4 linked regions of the Homo sapiens genome follow. The protein of the gene in region 1 interacts with the protein of each later gene in a biochemical or structural test. Each region holds a gene or a part of one and is shown on either strand. Other genes may lie near its edges.

Region 1 (4,014 bases):
GGAGTTTGAGACCAGCCTGGCCAACATAGTGAAACCCCGTCTCTACGAAAAATACAAAAATTAGTTGGGCGTGGTGGCATGTGCCTGTAATCCCAGCTACTAGGGAGGCTGAGGCAGGAGAATCGCTGGAACCGGGAGGTGGAGGTTGCAGTGAGCCGAGATTGTGCCACTGCACTCCAGCCTGAGCGATAGAGCAAAACTTTGTCTCAAAAAAAAAAAAAAAAAAAAATCTTCAGAGCTCTTAAGTATTTCAGGATGAAGTTCAAACTTGCTAGCCCAGGAAACCAAGAAAGCCCTCCATTATTTCACCCCGGCTTTTCTTCACAGCCTCATCTCACACCATTAACCTCCAACCTCATGCTTTATGCTCCTATACATACACATATGATCCAGCCAAACCTAAGCACTTGAATTTCTCTGACTGCCTTTCTCTCTGTCTCCAAGCCCGTAAGCATGCTATTCTACCATCCACCATTTGCTTGGATAATTGCAAATCATCTTTGAGGATGCATCCTTGCCTTGAAACCATCCTTGGGCCCTCCCTGCTCCTCACCCAGGCTGGGTTCAATACTTTTCCTTTCTTCCTCCTATTTGTATCTGAGCTTTCAGTGAGAATTGGTGAGATACCTTGAGGTTTTCAAGGGGAAGACCTACTGCTTCCCAGAGGAGCAGCTCCTGCTTCAGCCTTCCTGGGATGGCAGCTGAAGAGTCAAGCTTGAGTTTCCCAAGGGAATCAACAGTGTCCCCAAGAGGAAAGCCTCTCCCCAGAGCCTGTCCTAAGTAGTAGTAAGTAGGCAAGTGTTTTGGGGTGAGGGAGAGGGCAGAGTCAAGAAAATGCCATTACTGAGGCTTGGAATCTCTAGAGTCTGACTTGGCATAGCAGCATGCCCAGGCAGGAGGAAGAACAAGTTATTGGAGCTTATTCAAGTGATAGAAATGGCCCCATGGAGGGGGGGTTCAGCTTTCCACCAGAGTTAGGAAGACCAGCTAAATGGCGAATGGTTGGGTGGTGAGACAGGCTGGATTCAGCCAGGTTTTTGTTTGTCTGATGAGCAGTAGAGGTGAGGGCAGACAGGGTCCTGGTGTTAGAATCAAAAGATCTAGCTTCTTGTTGTGTCAGTTCTGCCTAGAACCTGCTGAGGAAGTCCTATAGCTTCTCTAGGCCCTAGTTTGTCATCTCCAAGATTTTTAGTCTCAAATAAAGGCATGGGGACAGGAAGCCACTTTGACAAATATAGAAGACTGAAGAGCTGTTATTAGAAGCAGCCAGTTTTAATAGAAGCCTCTCTTTGAGGGATCCTCCTAGAAGTCAAGTACTGGCTGCGTTGGAGGTACAGAGGACTCTAGGCCTTGTCAGCTGAATTTGTCTTCTGGGCATAGGGCCAACATACTCCATGGCCCAAGGACTGGGCAAGAAAGTTTAACTTAGGATCCTTACTTAATCTTCCCTAGTGGGGAGATTGGAGCTGCAGGAGAGGATTAGGAGGGTCAAGATTGACCGCAGCTCCTGACTTAACCCCTTCTCACCTAGGTACTTTCCCTGCTATTCTCCCCATCTCTTGCTCCAAGAGTCTTGTGCATGGTACTCTTTCTTTGGCAGTACCCTCCTAAGACTACATGGGACAGGGCACTTGGGGTTCCCAGGCTCAAGGAAGGAACTGATGTGGCCTTCTGGGGGTGATGATGGCCACCACAGCCCTCTTCTGTCAGTCAGCCTCATTTCTATATCCCTTGATCTCACTGCCCCTCATAAGAATCTGAGACACTTGCCCCCTTCTCTGAAACTCACTTCCAGCTGCCAAGGGCACTAGTAGGTGGCAAAGCCATTCCCTTGAGGCCCTACTTTCTTGAAAGTTTGTCCTTAGAGCAGTTCATCTTTCCTTCTACATCAATTGATTGATGGCAGTTCAGAGAATTGCAACTGGATTGAGAGATTTTCTTATTGTTTGAAAAAGAAGTTGATTTTTGTCCTGATCATCAAAGTAAAGCATTCTCACTTTAGAACACTGGAAAACACAGAAAGGCAGAATTTAGAAAACAAAAATCGCCTACGATCTCCCCGGCCATAAGTGCTGTGAATGTTTTGGTTCCAACTGCATTTTCAAAGAGGGCACTTGAAGAGAGTAATACCTCAGTCGAAAGAAGGAATTTCTAATGACAGACTTGCAGACCAGTGAGGGAGAGTCCTTGAAGGACCTCATGGGGAAACTTTATGACTTCACTTAGGAACCCACCTTCTGCTACCTCCCTGAGCCTTCATGCCAAGGAGGGCACTGGAGCTGGCTGTGAGGGAGTGCCCCTTCTGCCACTCCTCAGTCCCCTACACTTAGGCAGAGGGGTAAACTGTGGCTCCCTTCCTCCAATTTTTATCCCAGTCCTTTTAAGCCCCCAAACCAGAAAATATCTGATTTGGAGAGTGCTTTCTCTGGTCCTGAAGTTTTAAAGATTTGAACCTTTGTGATAGCTTTGAGGGAACAAATACCACCAACCCAAATGCCACCGGAGTTTCCCCTCCCATACCCTTCACTCAGAAACCCAAGGTGGCCCAGCCTGGCTCCACCATGGGGTGAATGGATAGTGACTAGGAAGGAAGAGTGCCCACCTCGGTGAATTTAAAAGGCAGCAACTATATCAGGATGGAGATACTTACAGGGCAGTTCTTTGCAGAGCCTTGGAGGGGGAGATGCCCCTGGAGAGGGAGAAAGGGATCCTGAGGGAGGGGAGCGAAGTACAAGGGGCCACGGGCTGAGGTGATAAAGGATTTCTAATCGTTAACCACAGCTTTGCAAAATCCATCTGCAAATCTGAGCCGTGGGTCAGAGACTTATTACAGATCAGAATTAAACCCCTGGAGGCTGGGAAAGATTGAGGCACTTTAGAAAAAAAAAAAAAAAGGTTTGGTGGGTTTTCTGTGTGTGTTTTTTTTTTTCTGTCAAAAACTCCACTCCAGCTGGGCTTTTGTGTGGTGACCTCTGTGAACCCAGGAGAGGCCTTGTGGGGAGGGGGATTTGGCCCAAGAAGGAATTCAGAACATTCCAGCTTTGAGGGTGGTGAGAGGAGGGGGCTCTGTCCCACCAATTAGGTGTCCCTGGCTAGCAGCCCTGAAGCCCAGCAGGGAGTAAGCTGCATAAACACAGCCCTGGTGAGCCAGTGCCCAAGCAGCCCTGCATGGCCTGCAGCTCCATAGACTTTTCTACTCAGCTTGATTCTCTGGCAGGCCCTCAGCCCTACCCCACCCCTAAGGTTGGTCCCAAGGCTCAAGGGCAAACATGGGTACTGTAGGTTCAGACTCTGAGTTCAAAGAGCAGGTCCTACAAGGTGGAACTGAGTAGGCCAGCATAAGGACAGGGCTCTCCTTTTTACCACACATGGCAGTGCCATGCACTATGTCATTTAAGCCTCTCAAAAGTGCTGTGAAGGCCGTGTGCAGTGGCTCACGCCTGTAATCCCAGCACTTTGGGAGGCCGAGGCGGGTGGATCACCTGAGGTCAGGAGTTCGAAAACAGCCTGGCCAACGCGGTTAAACCTTGTCTCTACTAAAAATACAAAAATTAGCTGGATGTGGTGGTGCGCACCTGTAGTCCCAGCTACACGGGAAGCTGAGGCAGGAGAATCACTTGGACCCAGGAGGCGGAGGTTGCAATGAGCCGAGATCATACCACTGCACTCCAGCCTGGGTGACAGAGTGAGACTCCATCTCAAAAAAGCAAAGCAAACAAACAAAAACCCAAACAACAACAGAAATAAAACCAAACCAAAACAAACAAACAAAAAAACATGCTGTGGAGTAGTAGAGCGCAGTGACTGGCTTTACTCTCCCAACGCAAAAAAGCTTTCTAGTTTTTTCTAAGTAGAAAAATACTAGATGCTATTGAAAAGAATTCAGAAAATGAATTATAAAGAAGAAAATAGAGGTCCTCATAATGCCACCAGCCAGAAATAATCATTGCTAACATTTTGATGTATTGTAGAAGATATCGATGGGATTTGTTTTATAAAATTGAATCACACTAT
Region 2 (3,500 bases), on another chromosome or scaffold:
GTTCCAGACCAGCCTGGCCAACATGGCAAAAACCCGTCTCTATTAAAAAATACAAAAACATCAGCTGGGCCTGGTGGTGTTGCCTGTTGCCTCCTCGGGAGGCTGAGGCCAGAGAATCGCTTAAACCCAAAAGGCTGAGGTTGCAGTGAGCCGAGATCACACCACCACACTCCTGCCTGGGCAACAGGGCAAGACTCTGTCAAAAAGAAAAAAAAAAAAAAAATGGAAAACTCCTGGAGTGTTTTGTAACTATATAGTGTGAAAGGAAACACTCATTGATTTACAAAGAAATAAAAAAGTTCAGTTCAATTTTTTAATATTTGCTGGAGCCCAGAGAAAATATGAGAGAGCAAGCAAGCGCTTACTTGTTTGTACACTAAAACACATGCGGCTGCTGCTATGGGAAGGATTTAGGACAAGAGACATAAAATATAGTCAGCCCTCCTCTTTTCTACCCCTGATCAAAACACCAGGGCATACATCTTGAAAACGACATAAAGACTAACCTAATTTTTATTTTCCTTCTTCCTTAATCTTTCTCCGTGTCAAATTAAAACAAACAAACAAACTAGGAGCAAGAGAAGGGGCAAACCCCTCTGGAGTGTAAGCAAAAGCAATTTTCTGGCAAATACAGATTTTATAAAAACCAGTGAATAAAGCTGATTAGAAAACCTATAGGCTTCCCAGGGCTTGAATCGGAAGACGCATGAAGTAATAAGCTCTGCCTGCCTTGAAAAGTGAAAAGGGAAAAGAGAAAAATTGTAATGTATCACAAATTCTATGACAAGTGTGGCACCCATGGGATAGTTATTTGCATTCAATTTTTGTTCTTATACTTGTTTTCCATAAGGTTGAAATCCACAAAATAAAAGTTCTTGGTTTTATAGCAGATTTTTTAAAGGACAAAAGTTTGATTTGTCTTAAATGAAAAGCACACTAGGATTTGTTTAATCAATATTTTAAATTACGACTTATTTTAGAAGCCAAGAAATAAAGATTTCCATTTTCATTTTTGCAACTTGTCCAAAATGAATTTAACTCACGGAAAAGTTAGATGATAGTAATACCAACCTTGTATCTTATGTAAGCATTTAAATGCAGATTGGAAGCTACTAATCATGTCATAAGGAAAGTATTAGAAATGTTTTAATTATTCATTTTTCTCCAAGAGTTGGTTTTGTATTATTCCTTCATAAGCCATGAGTATTCAAGAGCCATTTGGCTTAAAAATTAAGGGAACAGAGTAAGCAAAAGTAAAATTTGAAGAGTTATTTTGTATTATCTTCTCTGACCTTGAGATGAAAAGTGAAGGAGAATTGGAGCTACCATACTTTAGAAAGTCCCTAAATCCATGCGGTCTTTAATTCCTGAAGCATTTCTATGTTCTTTAATATCCACGTGTTAAGTATTAAGGATTGCATTCTTCTTTGTTCCCTTGAGTTTAGCTGAAGGTCATTCCTGGTTTTAAAGATTAAAATCTGAGCAAACTAACCTCTGATGTAGAGAAGAGTTGCTATGAACATTTTAAGGTCTGGAAGAGAAGAATTCCACACTAATCTCCTTATCAGTATCTTCTCTTTGTTACAAGGGTAAATGACATGTACTACTTTCTATACCACTGTCTAACATAAAATATTGGACTAAAATTGAATATATCTCCTCTTATGACCACTTGGATTCAACATGTAGATTTATGCATAGTGACATGTAAATTACAGTGCTCAGTATATTTCTAAAAATCGAATTATAATATATGATGTTTTAGCCTTGTAATACAAAGAAGCAAAAAGCTGATCTATAGATTTTCTTAATATATAATTAAATTTCTACCCCAGGATGCATAATTAATGCGTTATTATTTCTTGGTAATTTCAGTTTTTGATCATTTTCTTGGTTATAAATGTAAAAACTGAAAGACAGATAAGTTGTGACTGTGGACCTGCTTTTATGTATACTCTTCACTCTCTCCAGAATGCTTTTCCTAAAGATCTTATTAATCTAATACACCAAAACGTAGTTTAAATTTTGCTTTCTCAGTGAGCCTTCCTCGACCAATGCTAACCAAACAGGCCCTTCTCTGTTATTCTCTATTCCAACCACATGTTTATTTTCTTCAGAGCACTTCAAATTTCAACTAATCTGAAATTCTAATTATGAGTTACATCATCTGACCCCCGGCTACCAACTTTACACATCCCATTTTTCATATTCTTCCCTCTCTCACTTTTTCACACTGACCTTCCTGGCTGTTCCCAGTATGCACAGGAGTTCCCCCTCCTGAGGACATTTCCCCAGGTATCTGCAACTTTGCCTCCTCACTTTCTACAGGACTCTTCTCAAATGTCACTGACTCAGGAGGGTGTTCCTTTACTAACACATCTAAAACAGCAGCCCCCATTTATAGCACTCTCCTTTACCCAGTTTTATTTCTTCTCCTTGGCACTTGTAGTTGTTTATGTGTGTGTTCATTGTGTGACTCTCATTAGCATGCAAATGCCATTAGATTTTATTTATTTTGTCCATTAGCACTGGCACAGTGTATAAAACAATGTTTGGCGTAAGTCTGGTGCACAATATTTATTTGTTAAATTAATTAATTAAGCCCTTACTTATCATCCATCTCTCCCATTAGACTCGTAAGGACCACAAAAGCAGAAACTTTTGTTTCTGGTATTCCTCCAGCATCTTGCATATAGAAGGTGATAAATGAATATTGAATGAATTAATATTTGCCTCTGTGTGTATTTTAATCTCCCTCTCCTAGTAGGTTCTAATTACCACAAAAAGTAGAATTATGTCTCTTTATCACACCAGTGTGTACCAATCCCACAATAGGGTCTGGCTTATGATAGGTACTCATTAAGTGAAGGATATCAAGGACTGGGACCAAAGTCAATAAGAACTTACAATGACCATAGCCACCCAGAGACCTTTACAGGGTTGATCTCAGATCTTAATGGCAGATCAAAAAGAGTTTTGGATAGGCACAGGGCCATGAAAATCTGTAATCACCTTGTTCATCCTTTTGGGGCCCAGCCTAGACCTTGAAAAAGCTTACTTCCCAGAGCAGACCCAGGAAGCTAGGTGCAGACTTCTGAGTTTCTTACTTTCAGATATATCTTTCAAATTTGGAAAGCAGTAAATCTTAATTTCGATCCCTAGCTTTGATTTGTTTGCTTAAAACATTTGCCCTGAAGACTATATCCATGTATGATGTCAAAAGGTAGCAAACAAAAATAATTCAATTGTAATATAAAAATCTCCACTAAATAGTAGAGCAACTTGAAAATATCTCTTATCATCACATTTTCATGCTTTTTCATTTGTAAAATGAAGATACCAAAAAAGAACTAGCAGCTCTAAAATTGTGGATTATATATTCAGATTTGCTGGGATGCCCTTGGGAGGCTTTGTCAAGCACCTTCTTCCCTTCCTCTCCTTTGCCCACCTGCCACAATTCCTCTTGGTTAAACATCACAGTTTTAGTGAGCTATTGTTAC
Region 3 (3,500 bases), on another chromosome or scaffold:
TTTGAGTCTTGTGCGTATATGGGTGTGAATAAATATATAGTCCTGTGCTTTTTTTGTCTTTTTGCCAAAAAAAAAAAAAAAATCCACTGTGGTAGTCACCAGTACCTAACAACCTTTTTAAACCTCATACATCCACACGAAATAATATTTGAGCAGCCTGCTGGCATCAGTAAGACTGCTCCTCAGCCCATGGGCCTGACCTAGCAGGCTGTCCCTCGCACTGACCACTCTGCTGTCAGCACACCCATAGCCTACTCTAGGAAACCGCACTGCTATCCTGCAGGCTCTTCTACACCCGACATCACCTGGAGAGGCTGCTGGGCCTTCCACCCCACGGATGTGCTGTAACGAGTCAACCTTCCTCCCATGATTGGGCATTTCGAACGTTTCCAGAGAAAAGGTTGTCTTGAAAGGTGACAACCAAAGGCTGCCTCAGTGTAACCTCGTCTCCCTCAGATGAAGACCTTTTAAGTTACAGACTTTGCAATAAAGTCAAATTGCTAACATGAATTGCCTGTTTAGGTTTATTCAGTGAGCGAATATGAAATTTGTTTATTTTTGAGACGGATTCTTGCTCTGTCGCTCAGGCTGGATGGAGTACAGTGGCTCGATCTCGGCTCACTGCAACCTCCGCCTCCCAGGTTCAGGCAGTTCTCCTGCCTCAGCCTCCCAAGCAGCTGGGATTACAGACGTGCACCACCACACCTGGCTAATTTTTGTATTTTTAGTAGAGATGGGATTTCCCCATGTTGGCCAGGCTGGTTTCGAACTCCTGACCTCAAGTGATCTGCCTGGCCTCAGCATCCCAAAGTGCTGGGATTACAGGCATGAGCCACCGCCCACGGCCTGAATATGAAATTTAAAAACAGAGTTTAAATCCCCTCCTTTTGTGTCATTGCTACTCCCCACCACCACCCGCACTACCGCCCATATTTGCTGTCACCAGAAGCAGGAACATTATGCTTAAGGGGAAGTTCAAAAAAGGTTGAGCAGAGAAGGAGAAGAGCACGTGGCTTTGAGTCTTGGCAGGCCCCTGGCCTTCCACAGTGGGCCTGGAAAGCTAGTAGCTAGTACGGTCTCCATGGGGATCTCGACGATCCAACCTTTTGATTGCCAAGGGCTCTCCACACAGAGGCCACATAGTCAGGGTTTAGGCAGTAGCATGGGCTGTGGAGCCAGCTTCCTGGGGCGACCGCTGGCTCTGCCACCTGTGAACTCTGACCTCAGACACATTGCTTAACCACGCTGTTTCTCCGTCCTCATCCTTCCAATGCAGATGGTCACAGGACATACCTCAGTGTTAGGAGGAAAATTAAATGTGTACAAAACTCTTAGCACAGTGTTAACTCCTTAATTATTGGAAAACCTCTTAGCACAGGGCTGAGTCCTAATAATTAGTTCTTAATTATTCACATAGCAAGGTCAGCAGGTTAAAAAAATGCAATTAAGATGATTTTATGTGAGAGCTGTGGAACGAACATAATATTTGGGGAAGAGTTGGTTTGACTTAATTCTCAAACCAAGAGCTTTCATGGAACTTCATTTTTCACTCCAACCTCAGACCCATAGTTCCTAAGAAAATAGCTTTGTTCTTTCTGATGCCAGATTTTTTTTCCCTGTTGCAAGATGCTGTGTGTCTGAGGTGGAAGATTAGCCCAAGACTATGCAGGGCCTTATGAACAGGCACTTTCAGGAGTGAGTGGCTGTTGGAACCCACCTCCTAGATGACTTCCCACTGTCCACTGGCACACATCCCCTTGCCCTGCCACCTCCAAGATTTCAGGCTCTTTCTTGCTTCTCTGCTTTCATTCTGTTGCCTTTTTTTTTTTTTTTTTTTTTTTTTTGAGACAGAGTCTTGCTCTGTTGCCCAGGCTTGAAGGCAGTGGTGCAATCTCAGCTCACTGACCTCTACCTCCTGGGTTCAAGCGAATCTCGTGCCTCAGCCTCCCAAGTAGCTGGGATTACAGGTGCATGCCACCATGCCTGGTTAATTTTTGTATTTTTCGTAGAGATAGGGTTTCACCATGTTGGCCAAGCTGGTCTCAAACTCCTGACAAGTGATCCACCTGCCTTGGCCTCCCAAAGTGCTGGGATTACAGGCGTGATCCACCGTGCCCAGCTGCCTTTTTTTTTTTTTAATTGACACATAATTGTACATACTTATGGAGCACAAAGTGGTACTTCAGTACATATATACATTGTGCAATGATTAAATCAGGGTAATTAGCATATCCATCACATCAAATGTATCATGTCTTTGTGGTAGGAACATCCCAAATTCTCTCTTCTAGCTATTTCAATAAATGCAATACCTTATTATTATTTTTTTTTTTTGAGACGGAGTCTTGCTCTGTTACTCAGGCTGGAATACAATGGCATGATCTTGGCTCACTGCAACTCCACCTCCCAGGTTCAAGCGATTCTCCTGCCTCAGCCTCACAAGTAGCTGGGATTACAGGCGTGTGCCACCACACTCAGCTAATTTTTGTATTTTTAGTAGAGACGGGAATTTCACCATGTTGGCCAGGCTGGTCTCGAACTCTTGACCTCAGGTGATCCACCCGCCTTGGCCTCCCAAAGTGCTGGGATTACAGGCGTGAGCCACCATGCCCAGCCCTGTTTTTGTTGTGTTGTTGTTGTTTTGTTTTGTCTTTTGTTTTTTTTACACTCAAACTGCCTTGGCTATTCAGAGTCCTTTGTGGTTCCATGCACATTTTACAACTGTTTTTTTTTTTTCTATTTCTGTAAAAAATGTCATTGGAATTTTGGTAGGAATTGTACCGAATCTATAGATGACTTTGGGTAGTATGGACATTTTAACGGTACTCTTCCATTGTCTTCCTTACCTTCCTCCTCCTCACTCTCTGGCCAAACTCCCCTTGTCAGCCCCATTCATGTCCCCACCTCCTCTGTCAAGTCTTCCTGGGATAATCTGGCTTCTCACTCTCCCACTCCTCTGAATTCGTCAAGACAGCCAGAGCTCGGTGTAGACCTGTATCCCAGCTTTCGTATTCTGTATGTTTTCCCTAGTTAGCCTCAGCCCCTGCACTAAAAAGGAAGCCTCTTGAGCTCGGCACTTGGACTGTTTTACACTGAAGTACATCATTCACATCCCCCAGTGTGAGCCAAACCCACACACCACTGGCCAGATACTGGGACTGAGAGGTCCATGAGGGCCCTGCTGCATCCACGCAGGAGTAGGGAACCAAATAGAACAAGAGCCTGACGCTTGCGGCTTTGCCATCAGAGGGTGAATGGCATAAAGAGACCCAAGTGTGCAATGATTAAATCAGGGTAATCAGCATATCCATCACATCAAATGTATCATTTCTTTGTGGTAGGAACATCTGCCATCATAGAAATACCAAAAGAGAGAAAAATGGGCAGATGTAAATGTTTCTTCTGCCGGCTAATCTGAGTTCTCTTAGAGCGTCTAAAGCAGGGTGGTATTTGTTAGATGTGGGTACTCTATAATTTTAGAGAGAAAACCAGGAAGACAA
Region 4 (2,387 bases), on another chromosome or scaffold:
CAAGTATGTAGCAGACGATGTGGTGGAATAATCTGAGGTGATGGTGCTGACGTTGGCCAAAAACTCGCTATGTTTCGTTTCTGGACTGGTTGATTTCTTCATGGAAAACCTTGCCAGGGAGGCCTGGGAAGACGTGCTGAGCAAAGTGCCAGAGTCAGAGCCTGTCTCTTCAAGGTGGGAGGACTTCTGTGCCAGAAGTGACCTGGGGCTCTCTTTCAGGATGGCAAAGCGACAGCTGAGAGTTGGTGACTTGTTGTGTTTTGAGTTGTGTGGTGGTGAGGGTTCTTCAGAAGGCGTGCTCTCTTTTCCTAGTGATATCTTTTCATCTTTTGTCGTGCTGGGGTCTTTCCTAGTGCTGTTTTCTTTGGCAATGATGATCTTCTGTTTTCTGCCCAGTGTCTCACTTTCTTTTTTGGACTCCTCTTTAGTATCATTGTGACACTGTTCCACATTTTCTTTCTTAAAAAATACATTGTCCAGTTCATCTTCTGAGCTGCTAGGCTGTGCTTTTTCTTTCGGCTTCTTCCTCTTGCGACTAGCAGCTGCAAAGATGGAGGACACAAGCAGTTCCCTGCTATACTGATCCTTTCCAGATCCCCAAGAACCCTGGGAAGCAAGAGAGAAGAAAGACTCTGAGCATAAGAATGCAGCTGAGTTCATTTTCTGACAAGCTTGTCTCCCAAATATTTCTTATCAAATTATATCTACTAAAGCTCTGGAAGCATTAACAGTGCAATTAGCTTTTTTTTTAATACCTCTTTTTACCTTGAACCAAAGTCAAATTTTTATTTAATGAGTCCAATTTCTTGCCTCGTGGTATTTAACTGCCAAGCCACAGCTCATACACATCTGCCTTTCAGGAAAATAGTCTGTGCTTAGTGCTGATTCCTATCAAAATCCCCCAAACACCTGACCTTCCCTCCTTCCACAGTGCCCAGGCATTCTTCACTTCCTTCATTTGGAATAGAGGCATGGGATAGGTAAAACAATATTGTGACACGGTCAAACATCATATTCTGATATAGGTTATTAAACATCACATTCTGATATAGGTTATTAAATGTTTATGACTGACTTTGATTTTTCTAATTACAGGTACCACATGATATAGATACTGTATCAGATAAGCTCATTGAGATAAGGGAACTCTGGTCTTCCATTAGTTCATTCAGGCAGGATCTTCAAGGATCTGCCTTAAGTAAATCAGGTTGGTAATGTCTTCATTTATCTCAAGGTAACAATGGAATTAGAATATTCAAAAAACAGGCCAGGTGTGGTGGCTCATGCCTGTAATCCCAGCACTTTGGGAGGCTGAGGCGGGCAGATTGCTCGAGCCCAGAAGTTCGAGATCAGCCTAGGGAACATGGTGAAGGCCTGTCTCTACAAAAAATTAAGTGGGCATGGTGGCACGCACCTGTGGTCCTGGCTACTTGGGAGGCCGAGGTCAGAGGATCACCTGAGCCTGGGGAAGTCAAGGCTGCAGTGAGCATGAGGGTACCATTGCACTCCAGCCTGGGTGACAGAGTGAGAACCCACCCCAGGAAGGTAGAAAGGAAAGATCAATTAACATAAGTACAATTAAATCCTTACCACAGAAACACTGTAGTGCAGTGTTATTGGGAAAGTTATTTGCTATGTATAATAGGTTCTTTTAAAAAAAATTTTTTAAGATGGAGTTTCACCATGTTGCCCAGGCTGGTCTAGAAGCCTTAGTCTCAAGCTATCCTCCCACCTCAGCCTCCCAAAGTGCCAGGATTTACAGGCATGAGCCACTGCATCTAGATATAATAGGTTCTTGATTGCAACTATTAGTTTCTTCCTAAATATCTGCTGGTTTACCACACACTTTTTAAGACAAGCAGGTAGGCAGGAGGTATGCTGAGTAATAGAAACAGACAGTATATTTCTCTATTGCCTGCAAATCTTAGACAAGTTAAAACTGCTCTATTTAAAGTCTTAAAGTAAAAATTTAGGCTGTTCTATCAAAGAATTTAGGCTGTTCTATCAAAAATTCGCTAAGATGAAATCACAGATGAACAGAACTTTGTTTTTACAAGTTATAAAGACTTTCATAATTATCCAGCACATTTCTAATGGTTATTTACATTTCCCCACATTGTGCTGAAGACTGTAGGGGATAATGGTTGTGACTGGGCTCTCAATTGGGAGACCTTGATGTCCATCCTCTCTAGCTTGCTGGGTACGAGCAAGGGATTCACTTTTAAACATCTCAGTTCCGTGGCGAGAAGCAATTAGATTATACTGTCTTTCAGATTTCCTTAAGGTTCTCTTTACAATTCTATGATCATATATGTGTTGAGGCAAATTACTCTACTTTTCTACAGAGACTGTTTGTTAGAAGTAGTTAATCATGTCATTGGGATATC

Evidence for each region.
Region 2: the proteins of CLDN2 (region 1) and LIN7A interact in a test that uses a peptide from one of them, tested with the Homo sapiens proteins (one large-scale study listed by IntAct).
Region 3: the proteins of CLDN2 (region 1) and PDZD2 interact in a test that uses a peptide from one of them, tested with the Homo sapiens proteins (one large-scale study listed by IntAct).
Region 4: the proteins of CLDN2 (region 1) and ARHGAP21 interact in a test that uses a peptide from one of them, tested with the Homo sapiens proteins (one large-scale study listed by IntAct).

The regions. Positions count from the first base shown.
Region 1 is NC_000023.11:106,919,188-106,923,201, reverse strand, and holds the start of CLDN2 (claudin-2), read right to left. Parts: upstream 2,801-4,014; 5' UTR 2,651-2,800; intron 1-2,650. UniProt on the Homo sapiens protein: Forms paracellular channels: polymerizes in tight junction strands with cation- and water-selective channels through the strands, conveying epithelial permeability in a process known as paracellular tight junction permeability.
Region 2 is NC_000012.12:80,931,435-80,934,934, forward strand, and holds part of LIN7A (protein lin-7 homolog A), read right to left. Parts: intron 1-3,500. UniProt on the Homo sapiens protein: Plays a role in establishing and maintaining the asymmetric distribution of channels and receptors at the plasma membrane of polarized cells.
Region 3 is NC_000005.10:32,083,131-32,086,630, forward strand, and holds part of PDZD2 (PDZ domain-containing protein 2), read left to right. Parts: intron 1-3,500.
Region 4 is NC_000010.11:24,585,501-24,587,887, forward strand, and holds part of ARHGAP21 (rho GTPase-activating protein 21), read right to left. Parts: intron 607-2,387; coding exon 1-606. UniProt on the Homo sapiens protein: Functions as a GTPase-activating protein (GAP) for RHOA and CDC42. Downstream partner of ARF1 which may control Golgi apparatus structure and function. Also required for CTNNA1 recruitment to adherens junctions.